Homo sapiens: one gene and its partners. The protein of the gene in region 2 purifies or fractionates together with the protein of the main gene of each other region. This does not show direct contact. Each region holds a gene or a part of one and is shown on either strand. Other genes may lie near its edges. The genes, in order: RABL6, CDKL5 and UBAP2.

Evidence for each region.
Region 1: the proteins of CDKL5 (region 2) and RABL6 purify together in Homo sapiens (affinity purification with mass spectrometry; 2 studies listed by BioGRID and IntAct, with this or other methods). This does not show direct contact.
Region 3: the proteins of CDKL5 (region 2) and UBAP2 purify together in Homo sapiens (affinity purification with mass spectrometry, with the first as the bait; one large-scale study listed by BioGRID). This does not show direct contact.

Annotation. Positions count from the first base shown.
Region 1 is NC_000009.12:136,814,319-136,817,968, reverse strand, and holds part of RABL6 (rab-like protein 6), read right to left. Parts: intron 3,487-3,650; exon of another isoform or gene 3,419-3,486; intron 3,200-3,418; exon of another isoform or gene 2,438-3,199; intron 1-2,437. UniProt on the Homo sapiens protein: May enhance cellular proliferation. May reduce growth inhibitory activity of CDKN2A.
Region 2 is NC_000023.11:18,628,079-18,631,728, reverse strand, and holds part of CDKL5 (cyclin-dependent kinase-like 5), read right to left. Parts: intron 3,359-3,650; coding exon 2,972-3,358; 3' UTR 1-2,971. UniProt on the Homo sapiens protein: Mediates phosphorylation of MECP2. May regulate ciliogenesis.
Region 3 is NC_000009.12:34,038,873-34,042,522, forward strand, and holds part of UBAP2 (ubiquitin-associated protein 2), read right to left. Parts: intron 1-3,650. UniProt on the Homo sapiens protein: Recruits the ubiquitination machinery to RNA polymerase II for polyubiquitination, removal and degradation, when the transcription-coupled nucleotide excision repair (TC-NER) machinery fails to resolve DNA damage. May promote the degradation of ANXA2.

The DNA of each region.
Region 1 (3,650 bases), on a different chromosome or scaffold from region 2:
TGCCTCGGCCTCCTGAGTAGCTGGGATTACAGGCGCCTGCCCTCATGCCCGGCTAATTTTTGTGTTTTCAGTAGAGACAGCGTTTCACCATGTTGGCCAGGCTGGACTCAAACTCCTGACCTCAAGTGATCCACCTGCCTCAGCCTCGCAAAGTGCTGGAATTAGAAGTGTGAGCCAGCACCCGGCCCCCTTTGCTTTTTGAAATCCACTCCTGTGTTTCGAGCTCAACTCCACCTCTCTGAAGAATAACCTTCAGTATTTATTTCTAAAAGAGCCTTTGCACAGTGAGCCTCAAGCTTCGGCAGAAGTGGAGCCAGTCACACGGCTCTCAAGTGCTCATCAGACAGAGACCTCAGCCCACGTCGGCCTCCCCTCAGCCCACGTCGGCCTCCCCACAGCCCACGTCGGCCTCCCCTCAGCCCACGTCGGCCTCCCCACAGCCCACGTCGGCCTCCCCTCAGCCCACGTCGGCCTCCCCTCAGCCACAGGTTTGCTGCGAGCTGGTCACCAGTCCACTGCATGCTCCTCTCAGGGAAGTCTTTTTGTTCTGGTTGCATCTAAGATGTTTACTTTTTAATGTTTTGAAAATTTCCAATGATGTATCTAGCTGTGGATGTTTTTAAACTCTGGACTTCTTGGAGTTTCCTGTATTTCATGAACTCTGGAAAGTCCTCAGTCTTCCCTTTCTCCTTTCTTGCTCTCTTCTCCTTCTGGAACTTGTACTGGACATGGGCTGGCATCGCCTCCTCCCTGGGCCGCACATCTCTTCCCAACACTGCTCCTCTCTTCAGCTGAGTTAGTGCTGCTTCTCGTGCTGCTTCTCCTGCTGCTGACTGATTTAACGTTAATGACTATGTTTTTCATTTCTAGAGGTTTTCATTCTGTTTCTTTTTCAAACATAAACTGTCTGCTCATGGTTTTTTGTATTTATAATTGACATAATAATTGCACATATCATGGGCATACAGTCTTGACTAGTCTTAAGATTGCTTCCTTTTACATCTTTATCAATTTTAACATACATTTGTTTTCTATTATCTTCACATTTTGAGAATGAAGAGTCTTATTTTCTCTCCCTTGAAATGAAATTTACTCCTTTTAAAAGCTAATTACCCATATACACACCTACTATATGGCCACAAACTCTTTTTTAAAAAAGCTAATTACAAGAAATCCTGTAACATCAGAAATAAGGCAAGTAAAATAATCTGATTTAATTATTTTAAAAAATTACCCCCCCCCCCTTTTTTTTGAGACAGAGTCTCACTCTGTCACCCAGGCTGGAGTGCAGTGGCGCGATCTCGACCCACTGCAACCTCCACCTCCCAGGCTCAAGCAATTCTCCTGCCTCCGCCTCCTGAGTAGCTGGGATTACAGGCATGTGCCCATCACACCCAGCTAATTTTTGTTATTTTTAGTAGAGACAGGGTTTTGCCATGTTGGCCAGGCTGGTCTCAAACTCCTGACCTCAAGTGATCCACCAACCTCGGCCTCCCAAAGTGCTGGGATTACAGGAGTGAGGCACCATGCCCAACTTAACCTCTACTTTTAAGTTAAAAAGTTAGGCTGGTCGCAGTGGCTCTCTCCTGTAATGCCAGCACTTTGGGAGGCCAAGGCAGATGGATCGCTTGGGCCCAGGAGTTTGAGACCAGCCTGGGCAACATGGTGAAACACTGTCTCTACAAAAATTACAAAACTCAGCCAGGCATGGTGGCGTGCACCTGTAGTCCCAGCTACTCAGGAGGCTGAGGTGGGAAGATTGCTTGAGCCAGGGAGGTGAAGGCTGCAGTGAGTCAAGATTGCGCCACTGCACTCCAGTTCAGGCGAAAGAGCAAGACCCTAAATAAATAAAATCAATTTCAGAATCTTTTTTTTCTCCTGCTGGTCCCTTGATCTTGGGTTTTCTTTTTTTCTGCTTAACTTCAGAATCTTAAATGTTGGCTGCAATAAGCTAAGTGATTCTCCTGGAAAACCTTTAGGATTCATCCAAGAAACGCTAAGAAGCCCTGTACTTACCTGTACTTAACCTCATGGTAAACCTGCTCTTTTACTAAACGGGATGTGAACACGACCTCTGTTCTAAGCTTGTTTTAGAAGATACAATGCAGAAAACACAGAGCTCTATTTGAGGCCCTGAGCCTTTCTTACCCTGATTCAATTTAACTCCTTCACATTCCTGCAGCTTTCCTGCAAAATATGGAATAATTTTCTTACATTTTCATACCAAGAAGAGCTTATGATTTATCTCAGATGCATGAAGGTTTAACTCCTAACCAGGCCCTCTCACAGTGCCAGCAGCATCTCCTGGGCCCATTACAAGGGCCCAGCCACCTCCCCACCCTGACAGCCTGTGCTGCAGCTGGTGTCAGCCACACCTTGCTCCTCTCCCACTCTGCACCCTGCAAAGATTTCCCATCCTCAGCAGCTTCAGACTACTTGGTGTCGAGGCAGGTAAAAACCAAGGTGACCCCAAGAAAATGGCTGCTCCCCCAAAGGAGGCAGAAGGAGGAAGTGAAGATGAGGAAATGTCAGAAGATGAAGAAGATGACAGCTGTGGAGAAGAGACTGTCACACCTCAGGAGAAAGGCAAGAAGGCTGCTGCAACCCCAGCCAAGAAGGTGACAGTTTCCCGAACAAAAAAGGCTGCAGGTGCCACACCCACCAAGAAAGCAACTGTCACTCCAGGCAAAGCAGTCGCCACACCTGCCAAGAAGGGAGCCATAGCAGGCAAAGCACTGGCAGCAGCTCCTGGCAAGAAGGGACACCCCAGCCAAGGGGGCAAAGAACGGCAAGAACGCCAAGAAGGAAGACAGCGATGAGGAGGAGGATGACTCTGAACCAGCAGTGATGAAGGCAGCAGCGGGTGCCCCTGCCTCAGGGGATGAGGACGAGGACGATGAGGACGATGCTGAGGAAGATGGCTCTGAAGCAGCACCTATGGAAACAACACCAGCCAAAGGAAAGAAAGCTTCTACAAATGCTGTTCCTGGGAAAGCCAAGAGGATGGCTGGGAATGAAGATGAAGAGGATGATGAGGACAAGGACGAGGGTGACGATGATGAAGAGGATGAAGTGATGAAGACGACAAAGAGGAGGAAGGGTCTGTCAAAGAAGCACCTGGAAAATGAAGGAAATGACCAAACAGCAGCTTCTGAAGCCAAGAAACACAAAGTGGAGAGTGAGAAGCACAGAACCAACTGTGCCTTTTTTTTTTTTTTAAGACAGGGTCTCACTCTCTCGCCCAGGTTGGACTGCAGTGGCGCAATCTTGGCTCACTGCAACCTTCACCTGCCAGGCTCAAGTGATTCTCCTGCTTCAGCCTCCTGAGTAGCTGGGATTACAGGCGTGTACCACTACCACCCGGCTAATTTTTGTATTTTTAGTAGAGACGGGGTTTCACCATGTTGGCCAGGCTGGAACGTCTTTCAATCTTTGTTGGAAACCTGAACTTTAACAAGTCTGCTCCTGAGTTAAAAACTAGTATCCATGGGCCAGGCCTGGTGGCTCACGCCTGTAATCCCAGCACTTTGGGAGGCTGAGGTGGACAGATCACAAGGTCAGGAGTTTGAGACCAGCCTGGCCAACATAATGAAACCCTGTCTCTACTAAAAATACAAAAATTAGCCGGGCGTAGTGGTGCGTGCCTGTAG
Region 2 (3,650 bases):
AAAGGTAGAAAAACAGTGAAGCAGAGTTTCTTTTCCAAAGGAGATCAGTGATACTTTCATAAAAGTAACATAAGCTTTCATTCACCCTTTTTCTTCTTTAGGAAGTTACGGCCGATAATAGGACATGGATGTCATGAATTCCCCTTCCTAAAGAAAAGGCAAATTTTTCTGACTTTAAATCAAGTCCTTTCTACCATGGATGGCAATCTTTGTGATGTCAGTAATTTTTCATCAACAGGGGAAAACAACAGTTAAAAGCTAAGAGAGGGCCCATTAGGTGTGAGAGAAAACTTTTGCATCCCCCTCCGTGAGCAGGAAGAGAATTGCATGCTGGAAATGCAGATTGTAGTTCACTTACAGCTTATTGGATGAAAAGTCAGAACAGACAAAAGCTGAGAAGAGGATTAAAGAGCTACCTCGAAAACACTGGTTGAAAACATTTGTAGATATCTGTAGGTATTTTCTGGCTCAAATCTGGGAAAGTACAAAAAGTACGTATTGACTCTTCAACAATTAGGTTTACTTTGCTCTAGGTAGAAGGCAAATATTCTAGCCCTTCTTTGAAGAACCGTCATGAATAGAAATGTTCTGCAAACATCTGAGATCCCAGTGTTAGCAAGGATGACAACATGGGAAACCAGCCCCTAGGTGACGAGCCTCGAATGCCACAGCATGGCAACGGGACCGTGCAGTTCCTAAGCGCATAGCACAGTGAGAAGTCTTTCCAGAGAAAAAAAGTGTAGTTTCTGGTTTGCAAGGGGGGAATACAAGGTAGAGATCTAGTATGAAAAAGAAGAGTTAAATACACACCCTTTTAGAGTCATTAGTGTCCAGGCAAAACTGCTGATGGTCCACCTCATTTGTATCATCAAGCAGCTGCCTGGAAAAGCCAGAATTCAGAGCTACCCAAACAGTACTGAACTGGTGAAAGAAGTAAGACAGAAAAAGAACTAAAGAGCATGCAAAACTATTGGTTTGAGTCAAATTTTTTCAGTAATAGTACCCAGTCGAGTTTCATTTTAGTGCCTATTACACTCATTAAAATTAAATAAAAAGCACCTTAAAATGACCTATCTATATAATCAATACACATTATAGTATTTATATAAAAATGCAATATGTGCACAATTTAAGCTTCAGGGAAACTAGGACCTTAGTCTTTATAATCTTCATAATCATCAGAGCTATGATTCTCAAAATCTCGGGGGAGGGTTAACAGTAACAGCACATTTTGATCATAGCTGACTTGATGCAGGGGCTGACACTCAGAATTTGAGGACAAGTAATAAATACTGAGAAGTTATCTCTTTGAGGGGTGGGAGGGACCTTTAAAAGTATTATTGCTCAGAGACTAATTCCAAAAATCTACTACTACTGATAGATGATGGTGCTGAGGTGACTTCCCTCAAGGATGACCCAGAGGCATGGGAGGATAACACTTGATGGCCAAAGGGTTTGATGATACTTGGGAGTAACTTGGGAGCTGAAAGAGATCAGATGAGGGGAAGATAGGTCCTGTTCTGATGGGGGTTGTGTGCGTAACAGGTGTGCATGAAAATCTTGTCATAAGTGGACAGCCCCAGGAAGAAAAAAATGGATAGAGTAATTTTTTATCTATCTGGAATTGCTCCAGGAGCCTTTTAAATATGGTATTGGAGAGAGCAATAGCAAAAAAGGCATTCAGAAATAGAAATGCCACACATATATCTCACACCCCATCAGCCAAGAGTCTCCGGGACAGTGGACAATATTCAGGAGCATAGAGATGGTTTGCAAGATCTGCAGACAGGTACCTCTTATGATCTCACAACAAGGAATGTTCACTGGCAAATCTTTGGTCTACGCTCTACACTAATGCTAAGTGGAAGAGCACATTCTCTCTACAAAGACCCACGAGTAACGCCTCAATCTATTCTCCCCTGTGTGCAAGTAACGTCCCTGGACACAAACAGGAGCCAAGTGTGTGAGGACGGAAACCAGGCCTGCTGGAATTCTCACTGGCCTATCTGACTTTCTTCCCCTGCAGGTTTGGAAAGAGATGCTGCATCTCGTCTGCTACCAAGGATCATGTCTAGAGGCTACTGCTGGGGCCTCAAAGTTGAGCAAGGTTCATACTGTTACAGTCACGTGTAGCCACAATTCAACTCCCTTTAGTAGAAGTATAATACTCACTTCATATCACAAATGTATAAAAATATGGCAGATAGTGTCATAACGATACTTTCTTTAAATGAATATATTTATAAAACAGATATTTACCATATATATATATTATATATAGAATAAAATACTCCTGATGCAATATATAAATGTTACTGTTTAGTTTTTATAGAAACTACTGTAGCTGTCCCACTGCTTCACAATGTTTCAAACAGCTCAAAATAACTTTACATTATAACATAAAAGATATGATTTTAACAGTACAATATTAATTATAAATAAATGTTACAAATCCTATCAAATATGGAAGTTTAGAAAACAATTTAAGACATACAGTTCATCTGCTAACCCTTCAAAGGGATACTCTTGGATTACAATAAACCCCACATTTACTCTAGGCAGAAAAAAATATGTAGTAAGGGCATCGGTCAACACGACTTTCCTATCCCTTGCAGTGCCAGGACACATCCTGGCATTCCCAAGTTCAACAGAGATTGCACTAAAGCTGGAATGTAAAGGGGAGAAACTGGCAAGAATTTCTTCTTCCTCAATGGCACACTCTATCTATTCTCACACAAGACCTGTGGGGAGTGGCGATCCCTAAGGAACTCCTGTGGCTCTAAGATCCCTGACTAGCATTTGTGGCCGCGAGGAGCTCAACGGCCCCAACACATGCAATATTGCACACACCTTCATAAAGCTGAAAATATTGGCTCACCACTTGGCCCGGCCCATGCCCCAAGCCCAGCCCACCCTTTCCCACCCCTCCCCACTGGCTTGTCTGTCCACCCCTCCCCCCTACCAGCACAAATTACAAGGCTGTCTCTTTTAAATCATTCAGATTTGGCATTCGTGAGCGATTTGTTCTGTTATAGGGGTGCCCATTTGGCCCACTTTTGGCACCCAGCTGTTCAGAGTAGGAAGGGCCCTCTGTGGCACTCCTGGTCACAGAGGACACATGCCAACCAGGATCCATCTGACCTGGCAGCTGGAGGGCTGGCCTGCCCTTCGGTGCGGGTTCCTGCCGGATGTTGCTGCTCCCGCCAGAGGCCTGGCTCAGGGGGTGAATCCGAATTTCTGAGAAGGAATTTTTGGTTTGTTGAGCTGTTAAGGGCTGGAAGCGGGGATCTGAGGAAGCCGGGTGATTTGAGGCCGAAGAGAGATGTAACAACTTGCGCAGTGATTTTAATGGCTGGCTCTGAAAGAAAGGATGAGAATGCACACAGGATTCAAGTTAGAGCGACCATAAGGCTGGGGAGGGAAGGGGGCTTAGAGGTGAGGTGACTGGGTGTGGCCAGGAAGGGCAAGCATGTGCAAGGAGGAGCCGGTCCAGCCATATCTGTTCTTCGGGTTTTTTCAAACAAGACTGTATTATTATTTAATGGAAAAGCCTAGAAATCTAGATAAGACATATAGAGCTGGTACGGCAGCCAATCAAAGGCCCAGGCTCATCTACCTGGTTGCATCCTATCTCTAATCAGGGGATCTCA
Region 3 (3,650 bases), on a different chromosome or scaffold from region 2:
TGGGGAGCGCCTCTGCCCCGCCACCCCGTCTGGGATGTGGGGAGCGCCTCTGCCCCGCCACCCCATCTGGGATGTGAGGAGCGCCTCTGCCCGACCGCGACCCCGTCTGGGAGTTGAGGAGCGTCTCTGCCCGGCCGACCCGTCTGAGAAGTGAGGAGCCCCTCCGCCCAGCAGCCGCCCCGTCTGGGAAGTGAGGAGCCCCTCCGCCCGGCAGCCACCCCGTCTGGGAAGTGAGGAGCGTCTCCGCCCGGCAGCCGGCCCGTCTGGGAGGTGGGGGGCAGCCTCCGCCCAGCCAGCCGCCCCTTCCGGGAGGGAGGTGGGGGGCAGCCCCCGCCCGGCCAGCCGCCCCGTTGGGGAGTTGGGGGGCGCCTCCGCCTGGCCGCCGCCCCGTCCGAGAGGTGGGGGGGGCGCCTCTGCCCGGCCACCCCTTCTGGGAAGTGAGGAGCCCCTCTGCCCGGCCGCCACCTCATCTGGGAGGTGTACCCAACTGCTCATTGAGAACGGGCCATGATGACGATGGCGGTTTTGTCGAATAGAAAAGGGGGAAATGTGGGGAAAAGATAGAGAAATCAGATTGTTGCTGTGTTTGTGTAGAAAGAAGTAGACATAGGAGACTCCATTTTGTTCTGTACTAAGAAAAATTCTTCTGCCTTGGGATGCTGTTAATCTATAACCTTACCCCCAACCCCGTGCTCTCTGAAACATGTGCTGTGTCCACTCAGGGTTAAATGGATAAAGGGCGGTGCAAGATGTGCTTTGTTAAACAGATGCTTGAAGGCAGTTAAGAGTCATCACCACTCCCTAATCTCAAGTACCCAGGGACACAAACACTGCAGAAGGCCGCAGGGACCTCTGCCTAGGAAAACCAGAGACCCTTGTTCACTTGTTTATCTGCTGACCTTCCCTCCACTATTGTCCTATGACCCTGCCAAATCCCCCTCTGCGAGAAACACCCAAGAATGATCAATAAATACTAAAAAAAAAAAAAAAAAAAAAAAAATACAAGCCGCACACGGTGGCTCACGTCTGTAATCCCAGCACTTTGGGAGGCCGAGGCGGGCGATCACCTGAGGTCGGGAGTTCAAGACCAGCCTGATGAACATGGAGAAACCCCGACTCTACTAAAAGTACAAAATTAGCCGGGGGCATGGTGGCACATGCCTGTAATCCCAGCTACTTGGGAGGCTGAGGCAGGAGAATCACTTGAACCCAGGAGGCGGAGGTTGCGTTGAGCCAAGATCACGCCATTGCACACTAGCCTGGGCGACAAGGGCTAGACTCCGTCTCAAAAAAAAAAAAAAATTAGCCAGGTGTGGTGGCACGTGCCTGTAGTCCCAGCTACTAGGGAGGCTGGGGCAGAAGAATCCCTTAAACTCGGGAGGCGGAGGTTGCAGTGAGCCGAGCCCACGCCATTGCACTCCAGCCTGGGTGACAGAATGAGACTCTGTCTCAAAAAAAAAAAAAAAAAAAAAAAAGGGACAGAAAACAAACACACAGGCCAGCCAACTAGAAGACTAAATATAATGGCAGACATATATCCAAAATATCTGTAATTACAACAGATATGAATGGTCTCCATGCTCTAGTTAAAGAGGTTAGCTGATGGCTCACTCCTACAATCCCAGCACTTTGTGCGGGTGAGGTGGGAAGATCACTTGAGCCCAGGAGTTCACGACCAGCCCAGCCAACATAGCGATACACTCTAATTAATTAAAAAGAAGTTAGCAAGTTGCTAACTTAACAAAGCAAAATCCAGCTATGTGGCGTTCATGAAAGATATATCTAGAACATCCCACTACAATTGGCTAAAACTAAAAAGGCAACATAAAATGTTGGCAAGGATGTAGAACTCTTAAACCACTCAGTCTTTGAGAATGAATTCCCAATTCTTAGGGCATCCACTCTGTGTATAAGCTGAACTTTTTCCAGACACCTAGAATGAAATTCATTATGTACCATCCTTGACAGATTTGAGAAAATAGTAACTCAACTTTCTGTGTTCTGTGGTTCAGCTGACAAGCCTGAGAACAACTGTGCAACATGTGGAAAACACTTTAGCATTACTTAGTAAAAGTTACACATACCCTACATACAAACCAAAAATTCCACTCTCAGTTATGTAGTCTTGAGAAAATGGACTTTGTTTGTTGTGGGCAGGGTGGCAAATGTCCACATGAGGACAAGTAAAATTGGTAATCTCAAAAAACTGGAAATGAGACAAATATCCATCAACAATGAAATAGACAACATATGGCACATCCTTACAATGTAACCTCATACTACTATAAGAAATCAACGGGCCGGGCACGATGGCTAACACCTGTAATCCCGGCACTTTGGGAGGCCGAGGTGGGCAGATCGCTGGAGGTCAGGAGTTCGAGACCAGCCTGCCCAACATAGTGAACCCACAGCTCTACTAAAAATGCAAAAAAAAAAAAAAAAATTAGCCAGGCATGGTGGTGCCTGCCTGTAATCCCAGCTACTTGGGAGGCTGAGGCAGGAGAATTGCTTGAACCCAGGAGGCAGAGGTTGCAGTGAGCCAAGATCGCACCATTGCACTCTAGCCTGGGCAACAAGAGCAAACTCCATCTCAAAAAAAAAAAAAAAAACAAACAAGAGTCCATGACCAGCCTGGCCAACATGGTGAAACCCCGTCTCTACTAAGAATACAAAAATTAGCTGAGCATGGTGGCAGGTGTCTGTAATCCCAGCTACTCGGGAGGCCGAGGCAGGAGAATTGCTTGAACCAAGGAGGCAGAGGCTGCAGTGAGCTGAGAAGCCGAGATCGTGCCACTGGCATTCCAGCCTGGGCAAAAGAGCAAGACTCCGTCTTATAAAACAAAACAAAGAAAAAAGAAATCTACATGGGGGCTGGGTGCAGTGGCTCATGCCTGTAATACCAGAACTTTGGGAGGCCGAAGCAGGCAGATCACCTGAGGTCAGGAGTTCGAGACCAGCCTGGCTAACACAAGGAAACCCCGTCTCTACCAAAAAATACAAAAATTAGCCAGGCATGGTGGCGGGCACCTGTAGTCCCAGCTATTTGGGAGGCTGAGGAAGGAGAATCGCTTGAACCCGGGAGGTGAATGTTGCAGTGAGCCAGGATCGAGCCACTGCACTCCAGCCTGAGCAACAGACTGAGACCCTATCTCAAAAAAAAGAAATCAACATGGATAAATCTCAAGCATGTAAGAGTGAAAGAATCAAGCATCAGAAGAATCATACAATTCTTACATTGAGAATAAGACTGAAAATGGGCACTATTAAACCATATGTTGCTTACGGATATACATATAAGGTAAAATTATTGTAAAAAAGTAACAGTAGGCTGGGGTGGTGGCTCATGCCTGTAATCCCAGCACTTTGGGAGCTCAGGTGGGCGGATCATGAGGTCAGGAGTTTGAGACCAGCCTGGCCAACACAGTGAAACCCCATCTCTACCAAAAATACAAAAAATTAGCCAGGCGTGGTGGCGGGCACCTATAATCCGAGCTACTCGGGAGATGGAGGCTGGAGATTCGCTTGAACTTGGGAGGTGGAGGTTGCAGTGAGCTGAGATCGGGCCACTACACTTCAGCCCAGGCGATAGTGCAAGACTCCGTCTCAAAAAAAAAAAAAAAAAAAGGAACAGTAGAACCTGCAGAGTGACT